Linked DNA regions of Homo sapiens. The protein of the gene in region 4 purifies or fractionates together with the protein of the main gene of each other region. This does not show direct contact. Each region holds a gene or a part of one and is shown on either strand. Other genes may lie near its edges.

Region 1 (7,024 bases), on a different chromosome or scaffold from region 4:
CTAGGACAGAGTACAAGGAGAACAGTATGATACCACACCTAAGAGATAATTAGAGGCCAGATGAGGCAGGCACGCAGGCTGCAGTAAAACATGGACTTTATCTGAAAAACAGTAACAATCAGCTTGAGCTGAAAGCAACATGATCTAATGAGAAAAATCACAGCTGTATGAAGAATGAACACTAAAGCAGCTAAACCAGGAGACCTGGTCAACAGCTAACCTAGCAATCCAATGACCGTGGCCTGAACTAGAGTGGCATGGTAGCCTTTAGTTGTTACACCCAATATTTCCAGCTCTCTTCATTAAGGAAAGCATTCACTTCAGAGCCCCCTATGGCTGGGAACATAACTTTGGCCAATGAGTGACTTGTGACTAACTCTGGCCAATGAGCTGTGAGAGGATGTGACATGTGTCACCTTCAGGCCACAGCACTTAACTGCTAGTGCAAGCTCTTCCAGAGTTAGTTTTCCTGCTAGCACAGAACTCACAAACATTTGAGCTTCCAGCTGCTCTGCCAGCCTGGGTCCTTGAGTGACTATAACTAGCTAAGACTTCTACCAATCCATGATAAACATGTAGTATGAAGGAGAAACAAGCTTCTGTTGTTTTAAGAAACTGAGATTTTTGGGATTGTTACCACAACACAGTTTATCCTACCCTGACTGTTAGGGAAAACCCTGGCCAACCAAAGAGAAGTAAAACCCTACAAGGGCTCTTCCTGCTGTCGAATGGGACCTGTTTGTGGGGAAGATGAAATTCGCTACCCAATACCTGTAGCCTAAACTACAAAATGCAAAGACATTCTTGAGCAGGTCAAAGGCTCAAGTGGCTTAAGCCTGAGAGTGGCTATGTTAATGTTTAAAACAGTTTTTACATTTTTGTTTATGATGAGTTAATTCTATGTACATTTCATTGGAACGACATATAAACCTAATATATATTATAAGAATGACAGGCCTACTTTGATTTTTAAAAAAGCTTTGCTTCCAAATCAGTTATAAAACAGCTTGTAGGATGTGTAAAAAATTAACATCAATAAAAATTATTATTGCTACAATTTGAAGTAGCTAAATAATTTCAGCTGTGAATTAAGTTCCACTGACATTGTTTAAAAGATAATAATGTAAGAGTAAACTAAACCCAAAGCAAGCAGAAGGAAGGAAATAATAAATACTGATGTGGAAATAAAAACAAACAAACAAACAAACAAAAACCAAAACAGAAAAGCCAATGAAACCAAAGGTTGGTTCTTTGAAAAAAATCAACAAAATTGATGAACCTTTAGCTAGACTCATCAAGAAAAAAGGGAGAAAAGACAAATTCCTAAAATCAGAAATGAAAGAGGACACTGGGTGAGGTGGCTCAGGCCTGTAATCCCAGCACTTTGGGAAGCTGAGGCAGGCAGATCACCTGAGGTCAGGAGCTCAAGACTAGCCTGACCAACATGGCAAAACCCTGTCTCTACTAAAAATACAAAAATTAGCTGAGCGTGGTGGCACACACCTGTAATCCCGGCTACTCTGGGGGGCCTGAGAGACAGAGCAAGACTCCGTCTCAAAAAAAATGAGAGGGGATATCACTACTGACTTTATAGATATCAAAAGGATTATAAGGGAGTACTTTGAAAAACCTCAGACAATGTAAATGATGAATGAATAAACTTCTAAAAAGCCACAAAGTACCAAAAGTAACTCAAAAAGAAATAGAAAATCTGAGTAAACTGAAAAGAAAAAATTCTTACAAAGAGCTTTCCACAAAGGAAAGCTGAAGCCCAAATGGCTTCACCAGTGAATTCTATCAAACATTTTAAAAAATAACAAAGTTTCACAAACTCTTTCAGAAAATAGGTGAAAAGGGAGCACTTCACAAATCGTTTAAGGAGGCCAGAATTACCCTGAGAGGCACCAGAGAAAAACGAAACTACATACACATCAAGTCCCTCAGGAATAGAGATGCAAAAATCCTGACCGAAATACCAGCAAATTGAGTACCACAACAAATAAAAATGATTATACACCATAACCAAGTAGGATTTATTTCAGGAATAAATGCAAGGTTGTTTGAACATCTAAATATCAATTAATGTTAATATATCATATTAATAGACTAAAGAGTGAGAACATGCTCATCTCATTAGATACATAAAAAGCATCAGACAACATCCAGTACCCATTTATGACTAAAAACTCTCAGTCAGATGCAGTAGCTTATGCCTATAATCCCAGCACTTTGGGAGGCTAAGGGGGATGGATCCCTTGAAGCGGGGAGTTTGAGACCCACCTGGGCAACAAAGTAAAACCCCATCTCTACCAAAAAAAAAAAAAAAAAGTTTTAATTAGCCAAATGTGGTGGGCATGTGCTTGTAGTCTCAGCTACCCGGGAGACTGAGGCTTGCTTGAGCTGGGGAGTTTCGAGGCTGCAGTGAGCCATGATCACGCCAGCAGTGAGCCATGATCATGCCCGTACTCCAGCCTGGGCAACAGAGTAAGACGCTGTCTCGAAAGAAAACAAACAAAAGGCTGGGTGCGGTGGCTCACGCCTGTAATCCCAGCACTTTGGGAGGCCAAGGCGGGTGGATCACAAGGTCAGGAGATCGAGACCATCCTGGCTAACAGTGTAACCCCATCTCTACTAAAAAGACAAAAAAATTAGCCAGCCATGGCGATGGGTGCCTGTAGTCCCAGCTACTAGGGAGGCTGAGGCAGGAGAACAGCATGAACCCGGGAAGTGGAGCTTGCACTGAGCTGAGATTGCGCCACTGCACTCCAGCCTGGGCAACAGAGCAAGACTCCGTCTCAAAAAAAAAAAAACCACCTCTCAACAAACTAGAAATAGAAAGGAACTTCTTCAACTGGAAAGGGCATGTACAAAAACCTGCAGTAATATCATGCGTAAGAGTGAAAAACCGAATGCTTTGCCCCTAAGATCAGGAACAAGGCAAAGGTAGCTACTTTTACTATTCAATGTACAGCCAGTCCAGACAGGCAAGATAAATAAAAATTAAAAAGTTCACACCGGAAAGAAAGAAAGAAAACTGTTCTTATTCACAGATGACATAATCTTGACATAGAAAATCCTAGGGAAACCACACAAAAAACTACGAGAAATAAAAAACAAGTTCAGTCAGGTTACAGAATACAAGATCAATGTATTAAAAAAAACTCTTGTTTCTATATACTAGCAATGAACAATTTAAAAAAAAAAATCAAAGAAAACAATTTCATTCATAAGTGAGATTGAATCAGAATAAAATAACCGCTGGGTGTAATGACTCACACCTATAATCCCAACACTCTGGGAGGCTGAGGTAGGAAGATTGCTTGAGGCCAGGAGTTTGAGACCAGCCTGGGCAACAGAGCAAGATCCTGTCTCTACAAAAAATTTGTAAAAAGCCATCTATTCATTGACTGGAAGATCTAATATTGTTAAGATGGCAGTTCTTCCCCAAATTGATTTATAGATTCAATTCAATCCCTATGGAAATCCCAGCAGGCTTTTTTGCAAATGTTGATAGATTGACCCTAAAATTTATGCAGAAAAACTAAAACAATTCTTGAAATAAAAAAGAACTAAGTTGATGGACTTACATTTCTCAGTCTCAAACCTTAATTACAATGCTACAGCACTCAAGAGAAATGATACTGGCATAAAGATAAACACAGAAGTCAATGGAACCAAACTAAGACTCCAGAAATAAACTCTTTGATTTATGGTCTACTAATATTCAACAAGGGCGCAATATAATTCAACAGGGGAAAGATCATCATTTCAAAAAATGATGCTGGGACAACTTCATAAGAACACGCAAAAAGATAAATTTTGACTCTTATGCTAATCCATACACAAAAATCAACTCAAATATACTACAAACCTAAATGCAGGAGCTAAAACTACAAAACTCTTAGAGGAAAACACAGAAAAAAATTTTCATGACCTGTGTCAGGCAAAGATTTCTTAGATATGACACCAAGAATACAAATGATAAAAGAAAAAAACTGGTAAGGTGGACTTCATCAAAATTAAAAACTTTTGTACATACAAAGACACTATTAAGAAGATAAAATGACAAGCACTTGCTTGGAGAAAATATTTGCAAATGTATACCAGATCAAAGAATGGTAGCCAGAATATATGAAGAATTATTAAATCAATAGAGAGAGGAAATATACCTCAGTTTTTTTTATGGGCAAAAAAAAATTGAATAGACATTTCACCAAGGAATACACATGGTCAATAAGCACATGAAACAATGTTCAACATCATTACTCATTAAGGAAATGCGTATTAAAGCCACAATGATAGAACTTCACAACTATAGAAATAGCTATGATTAAAAAAAAAAAAACAGAATTTCAAGCGTTAGCAAGGATGAGAAAAAACTAGAACCCTGATACATTGCTGGAGGAAATATAAAATGGTACAGCTATTTTAGCAGTTTCTTAACAAGTTAAATATAAATTTGACATATGACCCAGAAATCTACTTCTAGGTCTCTATCCAAAAGAGATAAAAAGATATGTCTACACAAAGACTTGTACATGAATATTCATACCAACACTATTCAAAACAGCCAAAAAGTGAAAATAATCCAAATAACCGTTTATTGGTGAATGGATAAACAAACTGTGGTACATATATCCATACTATGGAATACGCTTTACCAATAAAAATGGAATGAAGTACTGATGCATACTACATGGATGGAACTCAAAAATATGCCAAGTGAAAAAAACAACACACAAAAGACCACTTACTGTACAATTTCATTTATAGGAAATATCCAGAAAAGGCAAATATACAGAGCCAGAAAGCAGATTATTGGTTTTCCGGGGCAGGGATGGGAAAAGTCACTGCAAATGGGCACATCAGATCTGCTGGGGGTGATGGAAATGTTCTAAAATTGGACTGTAATAACAGCTGCAAAATTCTGTAAATTTACCAAACATCTTTGAACTGTAAACTTAAAATGAATGAACTGTATGGTATGTAAATTAAACCTAAATAAAGTTTTTTTAAAGAGGTAATAACCTAAATTTTAACTACAGCACAAGACTATTAACATCCTAAGAGCTTAAATTCTCTTGTCCCATCCTTTATATTCAACAAAGTGCCTATCAACATGAGTGCTGAACTGAAAAATGAACTAGCCATAACTAAACGGTTTCCTCCTGAATAATCTGAATAAAAACCAAACAGTCCTAAACAATTTTACTAACCAGAATTTTGTTTAGAGCCTGACGATCCTCCATGTTCTACCTTTGTTTTCTTCTTCTTTGACGATGATGATGATGACTCAGAAGATGCTGAACGTTTTTCTACTACAGGAGTAGAAAGAGCTCGTTTTTTGAACAGCTCCCTTTCTCTCAACAGGCTTGGATCCATAATGCTACAAAGAAAAAATAAGTGTCTTTAATACAAATTCAAGTCACTCAAACCTGCACTCCAAATCCACAGATCTCAACAAGTTACTTCCCAAACAAAATTACCTTTTATTATTAGTTCTCTAGCACTTGCATTTATTCACTTATTCAAGTACTCAAGAAATATTTCATTAGCGCTTATTACACGCCAAGCACTGTACTAGCCATTATAGGAAAAAAAGAGGCCAGGCATAGTGGCTGAAGCACTTTGGGAAGCCGAGGTGGGCAGACTGCCTGAGCCCAGGAGTTGGAGACCAGCCTGGACAACATGGTAATACCTCCTGTCTACAAAAATACAAAAAATCAGGCAGGCATGGTGATGTGTGCTTACAGTCCCAGCTACTCGGGAGGCGGAAGTGGGAGGATCACTTCAGCCTGGAAGGTCAAGGCTGCAGTGAGCTGTGATAATGCCACTGCACTCTAGCCTGGGTGACAGACCAAGACCCTTGTTCAAAAAAAAAAAAAAAAAAGAAAGAAAGAAAAGAAACAGAATTATTCCCTAAAGTTCCAGAACTGTGCTGTCCAATATATTAGCCACTAGCCACATGTGCCTATTAAACATGTGAAATGTGGCTAGTTAAAATTGAGATGGACTTTCAAGTGTAAAAACCCACAAGATTTCAAAGATTTAGTATAAAGAAAAAAACTATTTAATTACTAACGAGATATTTTACATTAATTACATGTTGAAGTGATACTATTTTGAATATACTGGGTTAAATAAAATGTTAAAATTAATTTCACCAATTTTTCTTTTAAAATATGGCTATTAAAAAAAAATTAAGAGACAGTGTCTCACTGTGTTGCCCAGGCTGGAGTACAGTGGTGTGATCATAGCTCAATGTAGCCTTGAACTCCTGGGCTCAAGCAATCCTCCCACCTCAGCCTCCTGACTAGCTAGTACTACAGGTACACGCCACCACACACAGTTAATTTTTTTAAAAACTTTTTAGAGACAAGGTCTTGCTATGTTGCCCAGGCTGGTCTTGAACTCCTGGCCTCAAGCAATCCTCCTACCTCAGTCTCCCAAAGCACTAGGATTACAAACATGAGCCACTGCACCCAGCCTAGAATATTTTTAATTACACGTGTGGCTCACACTTCCCACTCCCATTATATTTCTATTGGACAACACTGCTGTAGAAACATGAGGACTACAGGGCAGAAATTAGAAGAAGGTGGATTTAGGCTCACTGCAAAAAAAGAGAACCATCAGAACTGCTTATACATAAAATGGCATATTTTTACAACTGGTGAACTCTCAATTATTAAGTGATGAAGAGGCTGAATTATTATACTATTTGTTAGAAATGTCTACAGAGAGCCGGGCACAGTGGCTCATGTCTGTAATCCCAGCACTTTGGGAGGCTGAGAGACCAGCCTGGGCAACATAGTGAAACCCTATCTCTACGAAATTAGCCAGTCATAGTGACACATACGTGTAGTCCGGGCTACTCAGAACGCTGAGACACGAGAACTGTTTGAGTCCAGCAGAGGTTGCAGTAAGCTGAGATCCCGCCACTGCCCTCCAGCCTGGGGGATACAGCAAAACTCTGTCTCAAAAAAAAAAAAAAAGTCTACAGAAAATTTCCAATTTGGAGGGA
Region 2 (7,024 bases), on a different chromosome or scaffold from region 4:
GGGTGAGAGAAAGCAGGCAGCTGTCTAAGACAGTTTCCATTCTCTCTGTCAGCACATATACAAAGTCATGGTTAACAATTTTCTGCTCCACAGTGATGTTTTACCTTCACAATTTCCTGTGCCAAAATCCCTCCAACCACCGCACACACTGGGGCCATCTCGGAGAAGCAGTACCTAAAAGAGAGGAAGACAAGGAAAATGGAGCACTGGGAACAGAACTGTGACCATGACATCTGGAGAAATTCAGTAGTAGGCTCTCCTGAATAAAAACAACTTCTAGCAGGAGGGCCCGATTCAGATAGCAGTGTTAATGCTGGCATCTAGGCGTGAAAATGAAATCTGAGCAAGGGATTCATAAGTGGTTGGAAAAGACCTTTGAACTTTGGCAAGCAGAAATTCTTTCACAATACTTTTATTTTTACCTTTATAAGTTAAAGGAAAGACTATATCTGTGCTTCCTATATCTGTCCTAGAGATATCAGATGTTTCAGTGCCCTGGTCACATTCTCGCAATTCTCTTCTTACCCATAATGGCCAGTGGGTTCTATATGCTATTCCCAGACAAATGTCAGGGAGCAGGCCTGTGTTAACATGTAGGAAGCAAGGGAAATTTGAGGCGTGAAATTAAAGTATGAGGGCAGAAAAAGTCTTCACAACCCACATAGAAACCAGCCCTTCTGGGCCAGGATGGGGCATCTAGAGGACAAATTTTAGATGACACAGTCACCTGCCCCTCCAAGTTACCCATCCTAGTAAGCAAATCACTTAATTCCACCACTTCCCCAAAGGAAGTGTGCTCTGCCAGCTCCTACTCCTGAACACAATGCTGTGTGCTCACCAAGCAAACTGGAACACAGACAAGTGAAAGGGAAAGCCTCCCTACAGAACTACCTCCAATCTCCCCAGTGTGGTGCACATCCTTCTAGACTTTTTTTGAGACGGAGTCTCGCTCTGTCACCCAGGCTGGAGTGCAGTGGCGCGATCTTGGCTTACTGCAAGCTCCGCCTCCCGGATTCATGTCATTTTCCTGCCTCAGCCTCCTGAGTAGCTGAGACTACAGGCACCCGCCACCACGCCCGGCTACTCTGAATTTTTAGTAGAGACGGGGTTTCACCATGTTGGCCAGGATGGTCTCAATCTCTTGACCTCGTGATCCGCCCGCCTCGGCCTCCCAAAGCGCTGGGATTACAGGTGTGAGCCACTGCGCCCAGCCCCTTCTAGACATTTTTAAAAGTGCACAATCTAAACGGGTATAATTAGGGCGGGCTCAGTGGCTGATGCCTGTAATCCCAGCACTTTGGGAGGTCGAGGTGGGCGGATCACAAAGTCAAGAGATCGAGATCATCCTGGCCCACATGGTGAAACCCCGTTTCTACTAAAAATACAAAAATTAGCTTGGTGTGGTGGGGTGAGCCTGTAGTCCCAGCTACTCAGGAGGTTGAGGCAGGAGAATCGCTTGAACCTGGGAGGCATAGGTTGCAGTGAGCTGAGATCGCACAACTACACTCCAGCCTGGTGACAGGGCAAGACTGTCTCAAAAAATAAATAAATAAATAAATAGGTATAATTTTAAACCCAAATATTATCAACTATTACTCTTCTGTTCTATAACCTATTGAGGGACATTTAAGCTGTTCAACACTGTAATCATACATCTTGACAAAGACACAGGCGTCGAAATAATTCCTTAAGACAAATTTCTAAATATAGCAATGCTAGTTTTTCATATGTATTGCCAAAATGCCCTCCCAAAAGGCTGTATCCATTCCAATCCCAAGAGCTGTGTCCAAAGGCACCTCCGGCTCCTTACGCCCTGGCCAGGACCAGCACATTCCCATTTTGTTCATCCAGGGGTAACATCTTCCTGCTTATCAAGGTCCACTACAGAGCTCTAAAATACATGGAGAACTAGGGCTGGGTGCGGTGGCTCACATCTGTAATCCCAGCACTTTGGGAGGCCAAGGCGGGTGGATCATTTGAGGTCAGGAGTTCAAGACCAGCTTGACCTACATAGTGAAACCCCGTCTCTACTAAAATACAAAAGTTAGCCGGGTGTGGTGGCGGGCAGCTGTAATGCCAGATACTCGGGAGGCTGAGGTGGAAGAATTGCATGAACCCAGGAGGTGGAGGTTGCAGTGAGCCGAGATGGTGCCACTGCACTCCAGCCTGGGTGAGAGAGAGACTCCCAATAATAATAATTAAAAAAACTCCTCCCATTGCTGGTAGAATCTCATTTTGGCCGTATTGGAGGAATAGTTCAGTCTGGCCAATATGGTGAAACCCCGTCTCTACTAAAAATACAGAAATTAGCTGGGCGTGGTGGCACGTGCCTATAGTCCCAGCTACTCCAGAGGCTGAGGCAAAAGAATCACTTAAAGCTGGGAGGCAGAGGTTGCAATAAGCCGAGATCACGCCACTGCACTCCAGCCTGGGTGACACAGCAAGACTCTGATTCAAAAAAAAAAAAAAAAAAAAAAAAAAAAAGGAACCAGATAACAGGCCAGGTGCAGTGGCTCATGCCTGTAATCCCAGCACTTTCGGAGGCCAAGCTGGGTGGATCATGAGGTCAGGAGTTTGAGATCAGTCTGGCCAATATGGTGAAACCCCATCTCTACTAAAAATACAAAAATTAGCCGGGCGTGGTGGCACGCGCCTGTAGTCCCAGCTACTCAGGAGGTTGAGACAGAAGAATCACTTGAACCACAGAGCACAGAGGCGGAGGTTGCAGTGAGCCAAGATCGGGCCATTGCACTCTAGCTTGGGTGACAGAGTAAGACTCCATCTCAAAAAAAAATAAAAAAAATAAAAAAATAAAAAAAAATAGCTGGGCATGGTGGCGTATGCCCGTAATCCCAGCTACTCAGGAGGCTGAGGCAGGAGATTCACTTGAACCCGGGAGGTGGAGGTTGCAGTGAGCCGAGATCATGCCACTGCACTCTAGCCTAGGTGACAAAGTGAAACTTTGTCTCAAAAACAAACAAACAAACAAAAGAACCAGATAATAAAATATTTTCAGCTTTATGGGCCATATGGTCTTTGTTATAACTATTTAACCCTGCTGTGGCACAAAAGCTGCCACAGATAATATATAAATGAGTAAGTGTGCCAATAAAACTTTATTTACAAAAAGAGGTGGCAAGCCAGTTTGCCAAGGGCTATTCCAAATTAAAAGAGATACAAGTGGCTGACGCCTGTCTATCCCAGAAGTTTTGGAAAGCCAAGGCAGAAGGATGGCTTGAATCCAGGAGTCTGAGAACAGCCTGGGCAGCAGAGTGAGACCCCCGTCTCTACAACAAAAATAAATAAGTATTAATTATCATTTAACTCAGGCAGATGTGCTTTGTATACTCTCTTGTTATGCGGTTCATAACTTTAAAAAATAGGAAACAGCCTGGTGAACATAGTGAGACCCTGTCAATACAAAAAAAAAAAAAAAAAAAAAAAATTAGGCAGGCTTGGTAGTACACGCCTATAGTCCCAGCTACGCAAGAGGCCGAGATGAGAGTGTTGCCTGAGCCCAGGAGGTTGATGCTGCAGTGAGCTATGATGTGCCACTGCACTCTAGCCTAGGCAACAGAGAGAGACCCTATCTTAAAAAAAAAAAAAAAAAGAGGCTGGGCGTGGTGGCTCACACTTGTAATCCCAACACTTTGGGAGGCCGAGGCAGGTGGATCATGAGGTCAGGAGATCAAGACCATCCTGGCTAACACAGCGAAACCACATCTCTACTAAAAAATACAAAAAAAATTAGCTGGGCGTGGTGGCGGGCGCCTGTTATCCCAGCTACTGGGGAGGCTGAGGCAGGAGAATGGCGTGAACCCGGGAGGCGGAACTTGCAGTGAGCCAAGATCATGCCATCGCACTCCAGCCTGGGGGACAGAGCGAGACTCTGTCTCCAAAAAAAAAAAAAGCCATCATCTAAACATAGGCAGCAGTTTACAAGGTGCCTTTGTAACATCAGCACCGTGAGGTCAGCGGCTGATGACACTGTACAGGCTTGGATCTCATGGTAACTCACTGGGGCACTCATCTCTTGGTGGAGGAATGACCAGTTTGTGAGAAGCAAGTGTTTCCTCTGCTGTGCTTCGCAGCAGGAAGAAGGACTGGGTCATGCAGGGCTTCAGTTCCAATAATCCCAGCCAGTCAGCCAGTGGCAAGCGGCAGCCACTGAGCATACCTGGGGCTGTGTGCTGGGCCGTGAGTGTGCAGCCAAGTGACTACTTGGGCATTCAAAGTGATGAACGGTCTGGCTCTGCATCACCGGCCAGCAGAGTTGAAGGCCCTGCTTCCTAGAAGAGGAAAGCCACAGCCTAACGAGCTGCTGGCTGGTTTTCTCTCCAAAGTGGTTCCTTCCCTGCCCACCCTCTTTGGGGAAACCGCTTTTCCATGTCTCAGTCTCGTGTGCTCAGGCACTGCCACTCTATTGCTGCCTTTTTTTTTTTTTTTTTTTTTTTGAGAAGGAGTCTCCCTCTCGCTCTGTCGCCCAGGCTGGAGTGCAGTGGCGTGATCTCAGCTCACTGCAACCTCTGCCTCCCGGGTTCACGCCATTCTCCTGCCTCAGCCTCCCGAGTAGCTGGGACTTAGGCACCCACCACCACACCTGGCTAATTTTTTGTATTTTTAGTAGAGATGGGGTTTCACCATGTTAGCCACGATGGTCTCAATCTCCTGACCTCATGATCTGCCTGTCTCGGCCTCCCAAAGTGCTGGGATTACAGGCGTGAGCCACCGCGCCCAGCCTTACGCTATATGTATTGAGACACGGTCTCTCTCTGTCACCCAGGCTGGAATGCAGTGGTGCAATCTTGGTTCACTGCAACCTCTGCTTTCCTGGGCTCAAGCGATGCTCTAGCCTCAGCCTCCAGAGTAGCTGAGACTACAAGCACCAGTCATCGATGCCCAGTTAATTTTTCTATTTTTTGTAGAGACAGGGTTTCACCATGTTGTCAAGGTTGGCCTCAAACTCCTAAGCTCAAAGCAATCTGCCTGCCTCAACCTCCCAAAGTGCTGGGATTATAGGTGTGAGCCACTGTACCAGGACAATCATGGCTTTTTGGGTCAGGGCACCACAGGTGCTTCAAAGACCACTGCTGGCCCTAAATGGAGTGGGGTTTGCTGTTGCTCACCTGAAGTTCCCAGCAGGAAGTCAACAAAGAAAGGACTAGGGACTCTGGCAGACCTTACTGTTGATAAGAAACCAAGGTAGCATGCTGCTACTAGAGCAAGCACTGTAATGATACCTGGGGTGGGATCTGGGTTGGCTACTTACTACCTGATGCCTAGTACATAACAGCTGCTCAGTAAACTGCAGCCATCATTATCACTGCTACAAGCTGGAGGCACTGCAAAGCCGAGTTTAGGAAGCCTCTCAAGACATGGAAAGGGAATTAGGGTGTGTACATGATCCCAGAGCTGCTTGGAAGGAGATGTGGATGGAGCGCGTGGTGGCTCATGCCTGTAATCTCAGCACTTTGGGAGGCCAAGGTAGGCGGATCACCTGAGGTCAAGAGTTCAAGACCTGCCTGGCCAACATGGAAAACCCCATCTCTACTAAAAATACAAAAAAAATTAGCTGGGCGTGGTGGCAGGCACCTGTAATCCCAGCTACTCAAAAGGCTGAGTTAGGAGAATCGCTTGGACCCAGGCGGCAGAAGTTGCGGTGAGTTGAGATTGTGCCATTGCACTCCAGCCTGGGCAACAAGAGCAAAACTCTGTCTCAAAAAAAAAAAAGAGAGAGAGAGATTGTGACCTAGTCACTATGTGGTCTTCTCCAATCAAATCCTAAGCCTGTTTATGAGAGCAAAAAGGTAGTCACGTAAGGTGAAAGCATGGAGTGTCCAAGTGAGAGGATGCTGGGAACATGGGTGGTTTTGCTGCTGGGGGTATGAATTGATAGGATACCAATGGAGGCAAGGTGGCAATGCTGACCAAATGATAAATTACAACCTTCTGACCCAGCAACTCCCTTCCTCCTAATTATCCTGCAGTTGTACCTGCACACGTACGACACAAGGTCACACACTGCAGTGTTACGCAGTTAGAAAAGCCTGAACACAACTTGAGTGAGCAGGCAACTGGTTCAATAAACTCCATCGCTTCACACTCTAGAATACTAAGGAGCTGTGGAAAAGAGGGAGCAAACTATGTACTGATCTGGAGATGTCCCCAAGAGATAACAAGATCACATAAAGTGAAAAAAGGTAGAGAATAATGTTTACAGATCTTACATTGCCTTGAATTTTGAACCACGTGAATATAAGATACTTATTGTAAAAATCAGAATCTGTCCCCTCTTTATTTTTTATATATTGCTATTCTAGTGGAGAGGCAGAAGTCTACAGGAGCGAGCAGAATGTGGCAGGGTGCTCTCTGAAGGGTTTCTAATAAAAGAGCTTGTCAAATTAAGGCAAATCCTGAAAACAAACTTTATCTGTCCAGACTAAACAGTGATAAATACTGACACCAACCTGACAAAGTCCTCAGGAAGCAGGTCAGGACTAATACCCAGTGAGTCAAGCACATCATTTCGTATCTGGAGCAACAACTCAGAATCTTCCTCATATGTATCAGAACTGGGATCTCTTCCTTTATCTGTACGGAACTTTAAGAGCACTGGGAATAAGAAAAAGAAGGCAGGTTATAAAGCCACTTTTTTTTTTTTTTGGAGATGGAGGCTCACACTGTCGCCCAGGCTGGAGTGCAATGGCACAATCTTGGCTCACTGCAACCTCTGCCTCCCGGGTTCAAGTGATTCTTCTGCCTCAGCCTCCTGAGTAGCTAGGACTACAGGCACGAACCACCATGCCTGGCTAATTTTTGTATATTTAGTAGAGACGGGTTTTCACCATGTTGGTCAGGCTTGTCTCAAACTCCTGACCTCGTGATCCGCCCGCCTCGGCCTCCCAAAGTGCTGGGATTACAGGTGTGAGCCACGGCACCTGGCCACCTTTTTTTATTTATTCAACAAACATAGTCAGAGAGGCAATCCAATAATTATAAAAGCAATTTACCTTACTGTGAAAAG
Region 3 (7,024 bases), on a different chromosome or scaffold from region 4:
GATGGCGTTTGTTGCATTATTGGAACATTGACTTGAGAAAGAACCTCCCTGCGGAGGCCACTTTGGAGCAGGAAGTGGGCCTTGGGGCCACTTTCCCTTTGTTCAGCCTCCAACTAGTCCTCCCCAAGATTACTGTTTCTGCTGGAAACCTTTCATTTCTGCCCCTCCTCAAGGAGTCAGAACTTTTTCGCTAGAATCCCTGGCAACGGGAGGTGAAACAGACTTCCTTACTTGATGTAGTTTTCACAAAGTCTGTGGAAATTCTCCCTCTCCGCATCACACTTGAGGTCATCAAAGAGCTTGCTGAGGAGAATAGAGGCGCTCATGCGGCTGTTTGCGGTCACTGCGAGCTCCCCAGGAGGGTCCTGTAGAGAGCCCCCCACTTCCAAAATCTTTTTCAGACCTGTAAAGACACCCCGCTTAGACAGTAGAACACTAGTTCCAACCCCTACAAGTAAAAGAAACAGGCTTCCTAGGAGATGTGGAGAAAAGCAAGACAAGAAGGCTACAGAGTTCTGACAACTGTGTCCAGGGCAGCCCGGAGAATCTGCTTAGCTGATCTGCTACCTAAGGGAGGCGGCTGTAGGATCGGGAAGGACCTCAGAAGTGAGGCCTGCATGCCAGCCCTGCCCCTGGGGCCAAACGCTCTGGAGCTTTTGAGGTTCCTCATCTGTAAAACTAAGGGGAAAAGAATATCCACACCTCATAGGACCATTGTGAACACGATACCCACACCTCGTAGGACCACTGTGAACACAATAGACACACCTCGTGGGACCACTGTGAACACGATACCCACACCTCGTGGGACCACTGTGAACACGATATCCACACCTCATAGGACCATTGTGAAAGGCCCTGCTCATGCAAGGCCTTTGCAAAGCTTTTCTTATTTATCTTTTTTTTTTTTAAGACAGAGTCGCCCTGTTGCCCAGGCTGGAGAGCAATGGCGCGATCTCGGCTCACTGCAGCCTCCGCCTCCTGAGTTCAAGTGATTCTCCTGCCTCAGCCTCCAGAATAGCTGGGATTACAGGTGCATGCCAGCATGCCTGGCTAATTTTTTGTATCTTTTAGTAGAGACGGGGTTTCACCATGTCGGCCAGGCTGGTCTCAAACTCCTGATCTTGTGGTCTGCCCACCTCGGCCTCCCAAAGTGCTGGGATTATAGGCGTGAGGCACCACGCCCAGCTCTTATTTATCTTTTAGGGGAAAAGAGAGATGAATTGATATATCTACCGTTATTTTTTCCTCTGAGTATAGAAGTAATACATGCTCACTCAAACAAAAAAAAAAAAAAAAAAAAAAAAACAGGGCACAATGGCTCATGACGGTAATCCCAACACTTTGGGAGACCAAGGTGGGTGCATTGTTTGAGGTCAGGAGTTCGAGACCAGCCTGGCCAACATGGTGAGATTCTATCTCTACTACAACTACAAGAATTAGCCGGGCATACTGATGCGTGCCTATAATCCCAGCTACTCGGGAGGCTAAAGCAGGAGATTTGCTTGAACCCGGGAAACGGAGGCTGCAGTGAGCTGAGATCGCGCCACTGCACTCCAGCCTGGGCGACAGAGTGAGACTCTGTCTCAAAAAAAAAAAAATACAGAAAGCTAATCCAGCCTCTCTGCTAACCTGCTTGCAGGCCCGCTCAATGTGCATGTATGTGCACACGCATATGATAGAAGAGTCTAACTTTGAGCCCCCTAAGGGTAGCTCTTGTGTCTAGAAGGTGTTGTAAGAGCTGAATCCCATTGCTCTGGAAGATCTTCTCAGCTCCAGCATCCTCCTGGGCCACAGGACGCACTTCAGTGCAGACACGTGGCTGGAGATAATCACAACTTTTCTTTCTTTTTTTTTTTTTTTTTTTTGAGACAGTCTCCCTCTGTTGCCCAGTCTGTAGTGCAGTGGTACAATCACAGCTCACTGAAGACTTGACTTCCCAGGGTTAAGTAATTCTCCCACCTCAGCCTCTGGAGTAGCTAGGACTGCCGATGCACACCACCATGCCCAGCTAATTTTTTTTAATTTTTCATAGAGACAGGGTCTCGCTATGTTGCCCAGGCTGATCTCAAACTCCCGGCTTCAAGTGACCCCCTGCCTCTCAAAGTGTGTCATCCACCATGCCTGGCCCCACTCACAACTTTTCTTATTACTCCTAAGAATAAACAAACTTCAGCTGCTGAAGCAAGTTTTTGTGAACTATATCACCTACCTTGGTCGATGACCCAGAGGGTGAGGCTGTTGTTGGGGTCCTTGAGAGACTTCCGGGGCACCGCTTTAATCAGGAGGGTCAGGGCATTGTCTCGGCCTTGGCCAGAGACCCCCACCTCTGTCAGCAGATCTAAGAGGTTACTGATGAGGACCTTCAGCTCCCGGGCAGGATCTGGCAACAACAAGAAGACATCAGTGGGCTCCACAGCAGCCCAGCCCAGTTTGACCCTTCAACTTCTCCAACAAACCAGGGAGACACAGGGAAGGGGGGATCCGCATCCCAGGCTCCAGACTGAGCTCCAGCTTTGTCCTGAGGCACCTTGGTTGCTGAGAATCTAGAGTAAAATAATGTCACCAAACCGTATTCCAAACAACCTGCAGCTGCAAGTCTGGTCCCCAAAAAACTGGCCTGGCTGGCTCAGCCCCATCCCTTCCATGACAGTAACGTCCAAAAGACCCCAGACCTGCTTCCACTCACCCACAATGATGGCACCTTCTTTGCCTCGGAAGCCTTTTTTGACACCTTCCTTGAGGGCATCAAACATAACCTGCAGCAGGTGGCAGGCAGCCAGGGACACAGCCTGGCTTTCCACGCCCAGGATGGAGACTACTCGCCGAGTTCCCAGTATGCTCAGGGTTGCCACTGTCTGGGGTGGGAGAGGTAAACAGAAGGAAGCTTCCAGTTGTTGAAGGGCAGCCACAGAGATCCCTAACTGTGAGTTAGAGGATACGGCCAGAAGGAGAGAATTGGGTGGAAGGCCCAGCTCCAGGTGAAAACAACACAGAATGGATGGCATGACCCAGGGTAATGGCAGGATAATTTTGTTAGAAAGATTTCCTAAAGGAGACATTACACGGCAATGCCCTACTACCTCTCCTTGGTGCCAGAGAAGACATAGTATACTGCAGCCCTGGGAGCAGCTGCCTTAGCTCATGCCTCCCCAAGAAAAAGACCTATACCTAGACGAAGCTACCTGACCACCAGGCTTAATGGTCTAGTTCTTCCCCAGTCTAAACCCTGAGGTTCTTTCCACACCCTGGGGATGTGGACGTCACGTACACGGAATGGGCCCGTGAGACCTCTCCACCCAGTTTCTTTCTTTTTTCTTTTTTTTTTTTTTTTTTGAGACGGAGTCTTGCTCTGTCGCCCAGGCTGGAGTGCAGTAGCGCGATCTGGGCTCACTGCAAGCTCCACCTCCCAGGTTCACGCCATTTCCCTGCCTCAGCCTCCTGAGTAACTGGGATTACAGGCGCCCGCCACCGCACCCGGCTAATTTTTTGTATTTTTAGTAGAGACGGGGTTTCACCGTGTTAGCCAGGATTGTCTCAATCTCCTGACCTCGTGATCTGCCCGCCTCGGCCTTCCAAAGTGCTGGGATTACAGGCATGAGCCACCGCGCCGGGCCCTCTCCACCCTGTTTCTAAGCTGGAGAACCCTAGAAGGCCTGCTTGGTCCACTGAGCCCAAATCCTGACTGCTTCCACTTAGCAGCTAAGTGTCCTTGGCCAAGACTGTGAACTGGAATGGACCGGAAGGCAGGAGGGAACAGAATGCACATGCTTTTAACAGTCTTAGCCTTGGGAGACCCAGAATGCAGCCCAAGCTTAGCCTAAAGAGATTTCATTGACTATTTCACAGTTTCACCCCTATCTAGGAATTGTGGGCTCCTCTAAAAGCAACCAAGGGCCTAGTCTTTGGTCCCCTCTCCCCTGGAGCAAGCCAGCTCAGGTAAGAGCTGGGGGCATGGACTTCACCACACTGGCCCAGGAGCAGGACTGTTATTGCTGCACTGTCCATGCTGGGCCACCACCATCCATGCTGAGAATCATGTCGGGATCAAGCCCTACGTGTCCGGTCACTGTCTCGATGGTAGATGCTGTGGTGGCCAGGCACATTCTGGGCCATGAGCTTGCTTGTGCCATATGGACATTGAAGGAGTCAGTGACCAATGTGTTTTTGTGAGTTGGCTGCAGGAAAGCTGGGGCTCACACTTGTAAGCCCCCTACAAAGCAAGTGCTTGGGGTACCCCAAGGCTGTTTTTGCTCTTTCTACCCCACTTCATCCTAATTTATGTTGGTCTTTTTCACGCCATTTTTATTTTTTCTCTCTTGTTACATGTATCTCCTTGTACTCTGCCTTTTCTTTTTTTGTTGTTTTGTTTTGTTTTGTTTCTGAGATAGTCTCGCTCTGTCACCCAGGCTGGAGTGCAGTGGCGCGATCTCAGCTCACCACAACCTCCACCTCCTGGGTTCAAGCAAGTCTCGTGCCTCAGCCTCCTGAGTAGCTGGGATTACAGGCGTGCACTACCATGCCCGGCTAATTTTTTTATTTTTAGTAGAGACAGGGTTTCGCCTTGTTGGCCAGGCTGGTCTTGAACTCCTGACCTCAAGTGATCCACCTGCCTCAGCCCCCCAAAGTGCTGGGATTACAGGTGTGAGGCACCATAACCTACCTAAGTTCTTTTTAGAATAAGGTAAGGGGTAGAGGGTGGAAGAGTGGATGGATGGATGGACGGGCAGATGGGCGGATGGACAGATGGGTGGATGGAGGAATGGATGGACAGACAGACAAAGGGACTGAAGCTGTAACCAGCCTCTCCACTCCACCTACCCGTGACTGATGCTCAGAGCAAATGCCAACCAGCGTACGCAGAGCCGCCAGCATGAGGTCAGTCTCTCCCATGTCCAGTAAACGTTGCAAGAGCTGAACCCCATTACTCCGGAAGATCTTCTCCGCTCCAGCATCCTCCCTGGCCAGCACCACCAGGTTCTGAGAAGCCTGCGTCAAAGGAAGCACATTATAATGTTGACACTGCACACGGCATAGGATGCAGCACTGGTGAGCAGGGGCCCCGAGCCCTGGACCTCTCTGCTTCCACTTCACAGTTGAGTGACCACGGCCAAAAAATAACCTCTTTGAAGTTTAGCTTCCTCTGTAAATAGAGGGAAGAGCCTTCTCTCGGGATTGATGGTTAGAGCAAATGAGTCCCCAGCAGAGCCTGAGGGGCTGGGACAGTGCCTCAGTTACCTCTGTACACCCAGTTCCTGGCACAGGGCGTGGCCAACAAGGTACTCTGTGAACACTGGTTCTCTTTCCTTGGTTCACGCTAAAGCCCCAGACCCTCAGAGCTCCCATCCAGGCCCCGTGAGCCCAGCTGCACGATTGGAGGAGCGGCAGAGCAAGGCAGCAGTGGCTTCGGGGGCCTATGGATGGGTGGCTCTAGTGGGAGCTCACTCACTGACTCAGCCCAGGGCCTATACCTTTTGCTTTTTCTCAGTGCCCTTCTCTTCTGGGTCCAACAGTATCTGAAACATCTGTTCCACTTTGGCATCCGTCGAGGACATGTATCGCACCTAGACAAACCAACAAAGCATGGAACAAATCACGGCTCTTGGCCAGAGACATCACACTCCCTATTCATTTGTCTCCAGCTCCTCACTCTGGGAGGCACAGTAAAGATGTCCAGGCTCAGGGCTAGCACCTAGCTACCCTGGGCAGGAAGAGACTTGCCTGGCAGTGCCTCCTAAATTTCCCGCACCTGTTTTTCTTTCTGAGCTATTTCCTGCTTGGGCAGCAGGGGCTGCGCCGATGCTGGAGTGCCTTTTCGGAGGGGAGGTATCCTGTCAGCTACGAGGCAACCCACTCCCAGTGGTGCCATCTACATTGTGGCAGCGTGAATGGGCTTCCCATGGCACTGAACTCAGCATTTATACCTCCTGCCAGGGAGCTGGCAGATCGTGAGGTAGTTGCTAACACTTCCTTTAGCTCCAGAATTCTCTTTTCACTGTTTTAAAAATAATCTGAGCTGGGCGCAGTGGCTCCCGCCTGTAATCCCAAAACTTTAGGAGGCCAAGGCAGGTGGATCACCTGAGGTCAGGAGTTCAAGACTAGCCTGGCCAACAAGGTGAAACCCCATCTCTACTAAAAATACAAAAAATTAGCCGGGCGTGGTGGCAGATGCCGGTAATCCCAGCTACTCGGGAGGCTGAGGCAGGAGAATCACTTGAACCCAAGATGCGGAAGTTGCAGTGAGCCGAGATCACGCCACTGCACTCTAACCTGGGCAATAACTGTGAAACTCTGTCTCAAAAAAATAAATAAATAAAATCTGAAGCCAGGCACGGTGGCTCACGCCTGTAATCCCAACACTTTGGGAGGCCGAGGTGGGCAGATCACCTGAGGTCAGGAGTTTGAGACCAGCCTGGCCAACATGGTGAAACCCCGTCTCTACTAAAAATATAAAAATTAGCCAGGTGTGGTGGCGGGTGCCTGTAATCCCAGCTACTCGGGAGGCTGAAGCAGGAGAATCGCTTGAATCTGGGAGGTGGAGGTTGCAGTCAGCAGAGATCCACTGCACTCCAGCCTGGGTGACAGGATAAGACTGTCTCAAAACAAACAAATAAATAAATAAATAAATAATCTGAATGGGGAAGATCATCCTAGGCCTACTCCCCCACCCCCCAGAGTCCTGGGCATAGATGGTGGCACAAGCCTAGCATGTGGACCACCCGCCTTCCTCTCTTGCATCCATGGCAGCCATGACTAACCAGTCATGGCACGTTCCCCTGCTTGGCTCAGGCAATCTGCTTCCTAATTCTTCTCAACATAGGACTCTGGGCAGCCACTGCCAATCAGAGTTGGCATTGAGAGAGGAAACCTATTTGCTTTCCCAGGCTTCAACATTTCAGTGAGGTGTCTGCCATCATGTTATCTGCTTCCACTGTGTCAGCATTTTAACGTCAAATTATCTGGCGAATTTGAGCTTGGTTGTAGCTCATAATGGTCTTTAGATTCTTTTCTCCTAATTTAAAAA
Region 4 (7,024 bases):
GAGACCACTCCACGCCGGCTGAGGTAGAAAGAAGGCAACTGAACACACAGCAGCTAGGGCAGGGGCAGGGAGGGGCTGCAGGTGGTGTGAAGAAGAGCCCAGCTGTCATCTAAGGCAAACTGCCCCCACTGAGGACAAGCGTAAGGCCCTACCTCCCCCAACCTGTGCGCATCTCAATCACAGCAGACACTGTGACGGCCACAGGGGACCCAGATGGTGCCTACCACCTTGCCTCCAGGCTCCACTCACCAGACCTCAGGCTGAGGGTCTGGCAGTGGAGGTAGGGGCAGGGACCCTTGGTGCTTTCAGACCCCACGGCAGGTAAAATCAGGACTGCCTGAGAACCCGTCACCCTCTGCCTCTCAGGTCACCCCCCAGCTCCAGGAACCTGCCTCCTGCTGTCCATTGCCAGGTCTTCCTTGCACCCTGACACCTGTGCTGAGGCGCTCTGGCAGCTGGAGGAGGCTGATTGCACTCCACAAACAGGACTGTCTGGACCAAGGGAAACTGGCAGGAGGGAGGTGGGAAAGGAAGAGGGCAAACGTTTGGCTTTTATAAAGTCAAGGACGTTTATTTCCTGAGGTCATGACACAGGAAGTGGAATCCTAGCCACGGCTGCGGAGCTCTCGTGATGAAGGCCAGAGTGCTGACTGACATGCCGGGTGGACCAGGAGCTGGAGTCTGTTATCTTAGCACGAATGCTCATGACCTTGGTTTAGTGTTAAACAGTGGAGCAGGTCCTGAGCGGGCACGGCCAGGCCTGGAGGAGCGGCCGCACACACAGCCAGGCGCTAGGCTCCCTGCGGGACCTCGGGAAGGGGGAAGAGCGTCAACAATTTACGGAGGGTCCAGCCGCTGGGTCAGATTGAGACAAACCATTGTGTGGTTGGGTTTGGGTCAGCAGGCTGGAGAGGGTTCTGTTCTTTTTGATCATTATCGTTTGGGGCCCCAAGGGAGGGTCTTGGGAGCCACCTGAGCCCCAAAGCTGGGAAATTCCTCAGAGCTGCTCATGTCAGGAGCCTGTGCAGAGAGAGGACACGGCTTCAGGAGGGGATGCTCCCCAACTCGCAAGCAGCTTCCGACGCAGTTGCCACCCTCAGGACACCAAGCCCGCCTGCCCGCCCACCCTCCCTGGGACCCAGGAGGGCAGAAGCCCGCATCTGACCTTCTCACTGCTGCTGGCGGTCCAGGGTGCGTCCCGCACCACAAAGCCTCTGGAAGGTGCCTTGGCCTCTTCGTGTGCTGGGGGTTTCATGTATACCTGCAGCGCCTCACTGTCCACCACGTCAGCTAGCTGCAGGCAGAAGACAGGAAGACAGGGTCAGTCTGCCCAGCACCCCCAGCATCCCGCCCGCCTGCTCACCCCTGCACCTCGCCTGCCTCTGGAAACACAAGTGCCACCTTGTCCCCTGAAGCTCCTGGCTGGGCCTCAGGCCGGTGGACGTGCCAGGGCGCCTCAGGGCTCCAAGGCCCACAGAGACTCACGTATTCCTCCTCCAGATTGAGGATGTGGTCGATGGCTTCCTCCACATTCTCTGGGAGCCCCGTCACAGTGACGCAGTTGGGGTCTGGGGCTCCGCTCTGTGGGAAGCGAATGTCCACCTGGAAGGGGTGTACAACGTCAGATGAGGGGACTCCAAGCGAGGAAAAGGGTTAAAATTATGTGTCAATTTCTAGTGAAGCATTTTCTGAGTTAGCAAACGTTTTAAAATCTGGTTTCAGAGTTGTTCTGAAGTCAGTCAGCCTCATCACCACACCAAGTTAGGTGTATCTCAGGAGCACCTTGTTCCCAGCAGACAGAGGGCCGCAGCACGTACTGTGCGCTCTTGCATGAAATTCCCACCCACAGAGGACGAGCTCGCCAGGCAGCTGTCAAGGAGATGCCCTCCTAATGGCCACCGTGGCAGTGCAGCCTCACACAGGCCGTCGCCTGCACTGACCCGTGGTGTCCATGAGGACAGTTCCACTGCCAGCCCTGGGGTTGTGGCCTCATCATCTTGAGGGGAAGGCCATGCCCTGCTCTTTCTTCTGGCCAGCCAGGTGCCCCCGGTGAGAGAGGATTCTCACCCACTGTGCTTCCAGCCGGCTCACCTTGAATTCGTCCATGATTTTGCGAATGGCTTTGCCGCGGGCACCAATGATGCGGGCGTGAACGCGGTGGTCCAGCGGGACGTCCTCAGAAACCATCTGCTCAAGTTCACCCACAATTCTCAGTATAGCATCCCTGGCAGCTTCTGTGTTCTTTTCGTACCCTGTGATGGTAATTTGGTCCTGGGGCTAAAAAAGGAGAATGTAGTCAGAAAAGGGGATGCCTTACTGGGATTCCCGTCAGGGGCAAGAGCCGGCCCCCACTGCTGAGGAAAACAGCTCAGGAGAGAAGATGGAAAGCAACGTCACGGCTGATTTAAAACAAGAGGTTAACAATGTCCACTCAGGGCCGGGCACGGTGGCTCACGCCTGTAATCCCAGCACTTTGGGAGGCCGAGGCAGGCGGATCACCTGAGGTCCGGAATTCGTGACCAGCCTGACCAACATGGAGAAACCCCGCCTCTACTAAAAATACAATATTAGCCGGGCGTGGTGGTGCACGCCTGTAATCCCAGCTACTCCCGGGGCTGAGGCACGAGAATTGCTTGAACCCGGGAGGCGGAGGTTGCTGTGAGCCGAGATTGCGCCACTGCACTCCAGCCTGGGCAACAGAGCAAAACTCCATCTCAAAAAAAAAAAAACAAAAAAAAAACACCCCACAAAAAACCTATGTCCACTCAGCTTCCATCTCTTCCCAAACTCTACCCAAAAGACAGTGAATTACAGAACGAAAAAGGACATTTGTCCTCAAAGACAAAGGAGAGACACTAACAGGCAAGAATTCTGGACTCAAGGACAGCGGGGCAAAGACAAAGCCCCAAGCCCCTCAGCTTCCTGCTTCTTTGCCCACGTGGGCCACAGTCTGGAGGCATCTTTGTGCTGGAGGCTGGAGGCTGGCTGGCATTCCTCAGCGAGCCCCTCCCTCACTCAGAGATCCCACCTGCTCAGGCCTTCCTTGGGCCACACAAATGGACAGGAGACACCATACCAGACTTGGGATAGCAGACAAGCAGACCAAGCAGACAGTTCAGGGCATAGAGAAGGAAACGTGGTAACAAAACACCTGTAGCCCACAATCGGCGAAAACAACATGTCCACAACACAAAAACCACCATGCAACAGGACTAGAGGACGGGGACAAATCACAACCATCACGCAACAGGACTAGAGGACAGGGACAAATCACAACACGGAACCATCATCACGCAACAGGACTAGAGGACAGGGACAAATGCCTGGAAAGGAAATGAGCAGAAAGACCTAACCTAGAGACAACAGAGCAGCAGCCCAAGAAGCTTCTGTCCAGATTGAAGCAAAATGCCAGAGTGGGAGGCAGCAGCCCCACCCACCGTGGCCCAGCAGAGCTGACAGCCTCAGGCACCACCCGCGTGCTGCCAGGTACAGAACCTCAAGATCGGAAGCACAGCTCACAGGAAAAAGCTGCCTGTGAAGAAATGACTGCTCCACCCCACTTGGCTCATGGTGTATTAGATGGAATAGTCTAATTGCTAAACAATGACTTTTTTTTTTTTTTTTTAAAGACAGAGTCTCACTCTGTCGCCCAGGCTGGAGTGCAATGGCATGATCTCAGCTCACTGCAGCCTCCGCCTCCTGCGTTCAAGCGATTCTCACGTCTCAGTCTCCCGAGTAGCTGGGATTACAGGTGCACGCGACCACGCCTGGCTAATTTTCATATTTTTAGTAGAGACAGGCTTTCGCCATGTTGGTCAGGTTGGCCTTGAACTCCTGACCTCAGGGGATCCACCCGCCTCGGCCTCCAAAAGTGTTGGGATTACAGGCGTGAGCCACTGTGACTCACCTATAATGACTTTTAAGATTGATAATTATATAGAATAGTAGAGGGAAATAAAAGGCAATAAGGGTGAGGGGCTTAAAAGAGCTAAACTCTTGGGCTGGGAGCGGTGGCTCACAGCTGTAGTCCCAGCTACTTGGGAGGTTGAGGCACGAGAATCACTTCAACCCGGGAGGCAGAGGTTACAGTGAGCCGAGATCGCGCCACTGCACTCCACCTGGGGCAACAAGACAAAGACTATCTCTCTCAAAAAAAAGAACTAAACTCTCAAGATCAAGACTAAAAATTAAAAAATGTATGTGGGGAGGGAAGAGGACGTGGGAGCTGGAGGAGGCAGGGTGCAGGAGGGCCCTCCTGGCCTGGCTGGTGTGTGTGTGACTCAAAGATCCAAAAGGGAACAAGAAGCTGGGGAGGAAGAAGGGGAAGGGGAAGGGGAAGCAGCGGAAAACCCTGGGCGGCACATCCACAGTGGGAGCGAGGGGCGTGGAGGGGCTCTGCTGCCAGGGGGTTTGCTGTTTCTGGAAACCAGCACAACTGTGGCCACCAAGGCTTGCTAGTCTCCCACTGTGGGCAAAGCTGTGCTGGACACGCCTAGGAAGCAGACACCCCAGCAGGATGCCAGAGCCAGGAAAGACCAAGCCTGGGAAGTGTGTGCAAGAGGGGGTGTTGGGTGAGGCTGCCCTGCATGCCAGGTGGCAGGGCCCAGAGAGGGGATGGGGCTGCCTTTCATTTTGTTCTGAGTGAAGCAGGAGGCCATGAGGGCCAGTGGCAGGGGGGTGGCACTGCAATTTGGAGGAAGTAACAACAAGAGTTTACTAAGGACCATCTGGCAAGCACAACGGTGTTTGCAGCTGGGGCTGCAGAGAAATGTCCACCTGACCCCAAGAGGCCCAGGTGACAGGTGAATGAGAGCCCTTGGGAGCCTCAGAGAGGCCCGGGTGACAGGTGAATGAGCTACACCTGGAGGCGCCACTGATCAAGGACCCAGCTGGAGCTCCTGCTCATTTTCTGGAAGGAGACGCAGGAGAAAATGCTCCAGGCCCCAGATGATACATAGTGCCAGAGACCTCACCCATCTGGCAAGTACCGAGACACAGCCCAAACCTCAAGCCAGAATTAGGTCCTGAGAGACTTGCCACTCTCAACTTGGCCCTCGAACCCCCATCTAGGCACATCTGGTTACTGCTCCCAAGTCACAGGAAAGGTCAACAAGCACCTCTGCCCCCGACACGCTCCAACCGAGGCTCTCACCTGGTTCCCATCGTCCTTATCAGGAAACTGGATGTTCACGTCATGCTCCAACCGGATTTGGGTAATTACTGCCCCCTTTCTCCCGATAATCTTGGGATGGTATTTGGGGTCTACAGTGACACTCAGCTTAAAACTCCTTAAAGCCTACAAATGAAAGGAGCAAGAATGAGGCAAAGATTGAGCTGATCCACCCTGTGACTCCATTCCCCTTCCACCCTGGTCATAGGACACTGGAGATGCTGCAGTGTTCTGTAACCCGTGGTCCGGAATGGTCCGCCATCTCTCTGGTCCGACCTCTGCCACCTTCCATTATCTGCTAATAATGAGAACCAGGGAACTTGGCTGCTCCACAAGGAGGTCTATAAATCCTTCAAAAGAGGGCTTGGGACCACTTGCGAGGATCGTGCTCAGGAACTGACAGAGCTAGGCAGTGAGTCACGAGCTTGGGGCCCCGCTCTCCTCATTTGTCAAACAGGGATCTGATGGATACGCACAGAAATGCTCTGGATCTTTTTAGGACTGGGGCAGATGCAGACCAAGAAGAGGGGGCAGCCACAGCCCCTGAACACCCATGGCCAAAGGCTACAGGTATGACCTGGCTGCAGGAGACAACCCAGAGTCCACGCAGGGGTACACTGACACCATGTGAGGTTCACGAGCTCCACCCCATTCACCAGACTCGACGTGCTCACGGGAGGAGTGGAAAGCCAACCCCCTTAGCAAACCAGCACCCCAGCACAGTCTGCTCCAAGTTCCAGAACCCCTGCTCCTGTCTGCAGCACTCTGCTCACACAATCCTCCAAATGTCAGCCCTGCCAGAGGCTGGGCGTCTGCAGCGCTCCGCTCATACAATCCTTCAAACGTCAGCCTTGCCAGAGGTTGGGGGGGTTTCATCCCTGCTTACCAGGAAGTCATTCGCCCTTTGACCACCCTGTGCTAGAGGTTAGTGGGGGTCCCCGATGCTCGTCCTCACTGCATAGCACATGCTTGGGGGCCTCTCGCAACCTTGACCTTTCTTGTAGGTCTGAGGTACCACTCTGATTTGGTTTTGAGAGAAACTGCAAATTTACACGGAAGTCCAACTTTGTCACTTTTTTATGAAAAAGAGAAAGGTGCCATGCTCTTGGCTAGTTCCACAGCAAGACCCCTGGATGCTGACTGCGTCCTGGCACTGCCTGCATCTCACCTCCAGCCAGATGTCGCTGGGATGCTGGGATCCTGAAGAACTTCCCTAGATTCTGACATGTGCCCAAAGCTGAGCACCATGGCTCTGGGCAGTGCCCCGGCCACCTCCTGCTCACCCGGTCCTCCTGCTCGGCCTGTAGCTCCTTCACACGCTCCAGCAGTCCAGCCTTGGCCCGGTCCAAATTTGCAGCGAGGCCCGTGATGGCGATGATGTCAGACTGCAGCTCAGGTGCCGGGACATGTATGTTCACCTACGTGAAGAGGGGGCTGACTTGACGTTCAGGACCCCAGAGAACAGGAAAGAGTCCATTGGCCCTGGGACCCAGAAGTGGTGAGAGGGAAGGCCACCCGCCGTGAAGGGAAGTCAGTGCCCAGTCCGAGCAGGAGGAGGCAGAGTCAACAGGAAGTTGAGAAAGGACACTGGCACTCGGGAGAGGATGCGACAGGCCACTCCTGTGACATGGCCTCCCGGGAAAGGGGTCTACCTCAAACTCATCCATCATCTTGCGGATCCCACTTCCTTTCTGCCCAATAACGTAACGGTGAAGGTCAAAGGGCACCTCTACTTCAATGGTGACAGGAACCAATGCCTGCAGGGAGGATGGTCATGGTTAGGCCGTGGGAGCTGAGAGCAGAGTGACGTTGTAAGCTCAGCAATGGGGCTCCACGAAACACAAGGCAAACAGC

The links.
Region 1: the proteins of HDLBP (region 4) and GTF2E2 purify together in Homo sapiens (affinity purification with mass spectrometry; 3 studies listed by BioGRID and IntAct, with this or other methods). This does not show direct contact.
Region 2: the proteins of HDLBP (region 4) and SAE1 purify together in Homo sapiens (affinity purification with mass spectrometry, with the first as the bait; 2 studies listed by BioGRID). This does not show direct contact.
Region 3: the proteins of HDLBP (region 4) and UNC45A purify together in Homo sapiens (affinity purification with mass spectrometry; 2 studies listed by BioGRID, with this or other methods). This does not show direct contact.

The regions. Positions count from the first base shown.
Region 1 is NC_000008.11:30,648,217-30,655,240, forward strand, and holds part of GTF2E2 (transcription initiation factor IIE subunit beta), read right to left. Parts: intron 6,969-7,024; exon of another isoform or gene 6,860-6,968; intron 5,766-6,859; exon of another isoform or gene 5,487-5,765; intron 5,387-5,486; 5' UTR 5,383-5,386; coding exon 5,217-5,382; intron 1-5,216. UniProt on the Homo sapiens protein: Recruits TFIIH to the initiation complex and stimulates the RNA polymerase II C-terminal domain kinase and DNA-dependent ATPase activities of TFIIH. Both TFIIH and TFIIE are required for promoter clearance by RNA polymerase.
Region 2 is NC_000019.10:47,196,821-47,203,844, reverse strand, and holds part of SAE1 (SUMO-activating enzyme subunit 1), read right to left. Parts: intron 6,613-7,024; coding exon 6,468-6,612; intron 175-6,467; coding exon 105-174; intron 1-104. UniProt on the Homo sapiens protein: The heterodimer acts as an E1 ligase for SUMO1, SUMO2, SUMO3, and probably SUMO4. It mediates ATP-dependent activation of SUMO proteins followed by formation of a thioester bond between a SUMO protein and a conserved active site cysteine residue on UBA2/SAE2.
Region 3 is NC_000015.10:90,938,271-90,945,294, reverse strand, and holds part of UNC45A (protein unc-45 homolog A), read right to left. Parts: intron 5,565-7,024; coding exon 5,472-5,564; intron 4,990-5,471; coding exon 4,822-4,989; intron 2,859-4,821; coding exon 2,690-2,858; intron 2,384-2,689; coding exon 2,213-2,383; intron 404-2,212; coding exon 232-403; intron 1-231.
Region 4 is NC_000002.12:241,228,668-241,235,691, forward strand, and holds part of HDLBP (vigilin), read right to left. Parts: intron 6,928-7,024; coding exon 6,823-6,927; intron 6,589-6,822; coding exon 6,454-6,588; intron 5,297-6,453; coding exon 5,153-5,296; intron 2,278-5,152; coding exon 2,092-2,277; intron 1,603-2,091; coding exon 1,486-1,602; intron 1,295-1,485; coding exon 1,166-1,294; intron 1,021-1,165; coding exon 934-1,020; 3' UTR 1-933. UniProt on the Homo sapiens protein: Appears to play a role in cell sterol metabolism. It may function to protect cells from over-accumulation of cholesterol.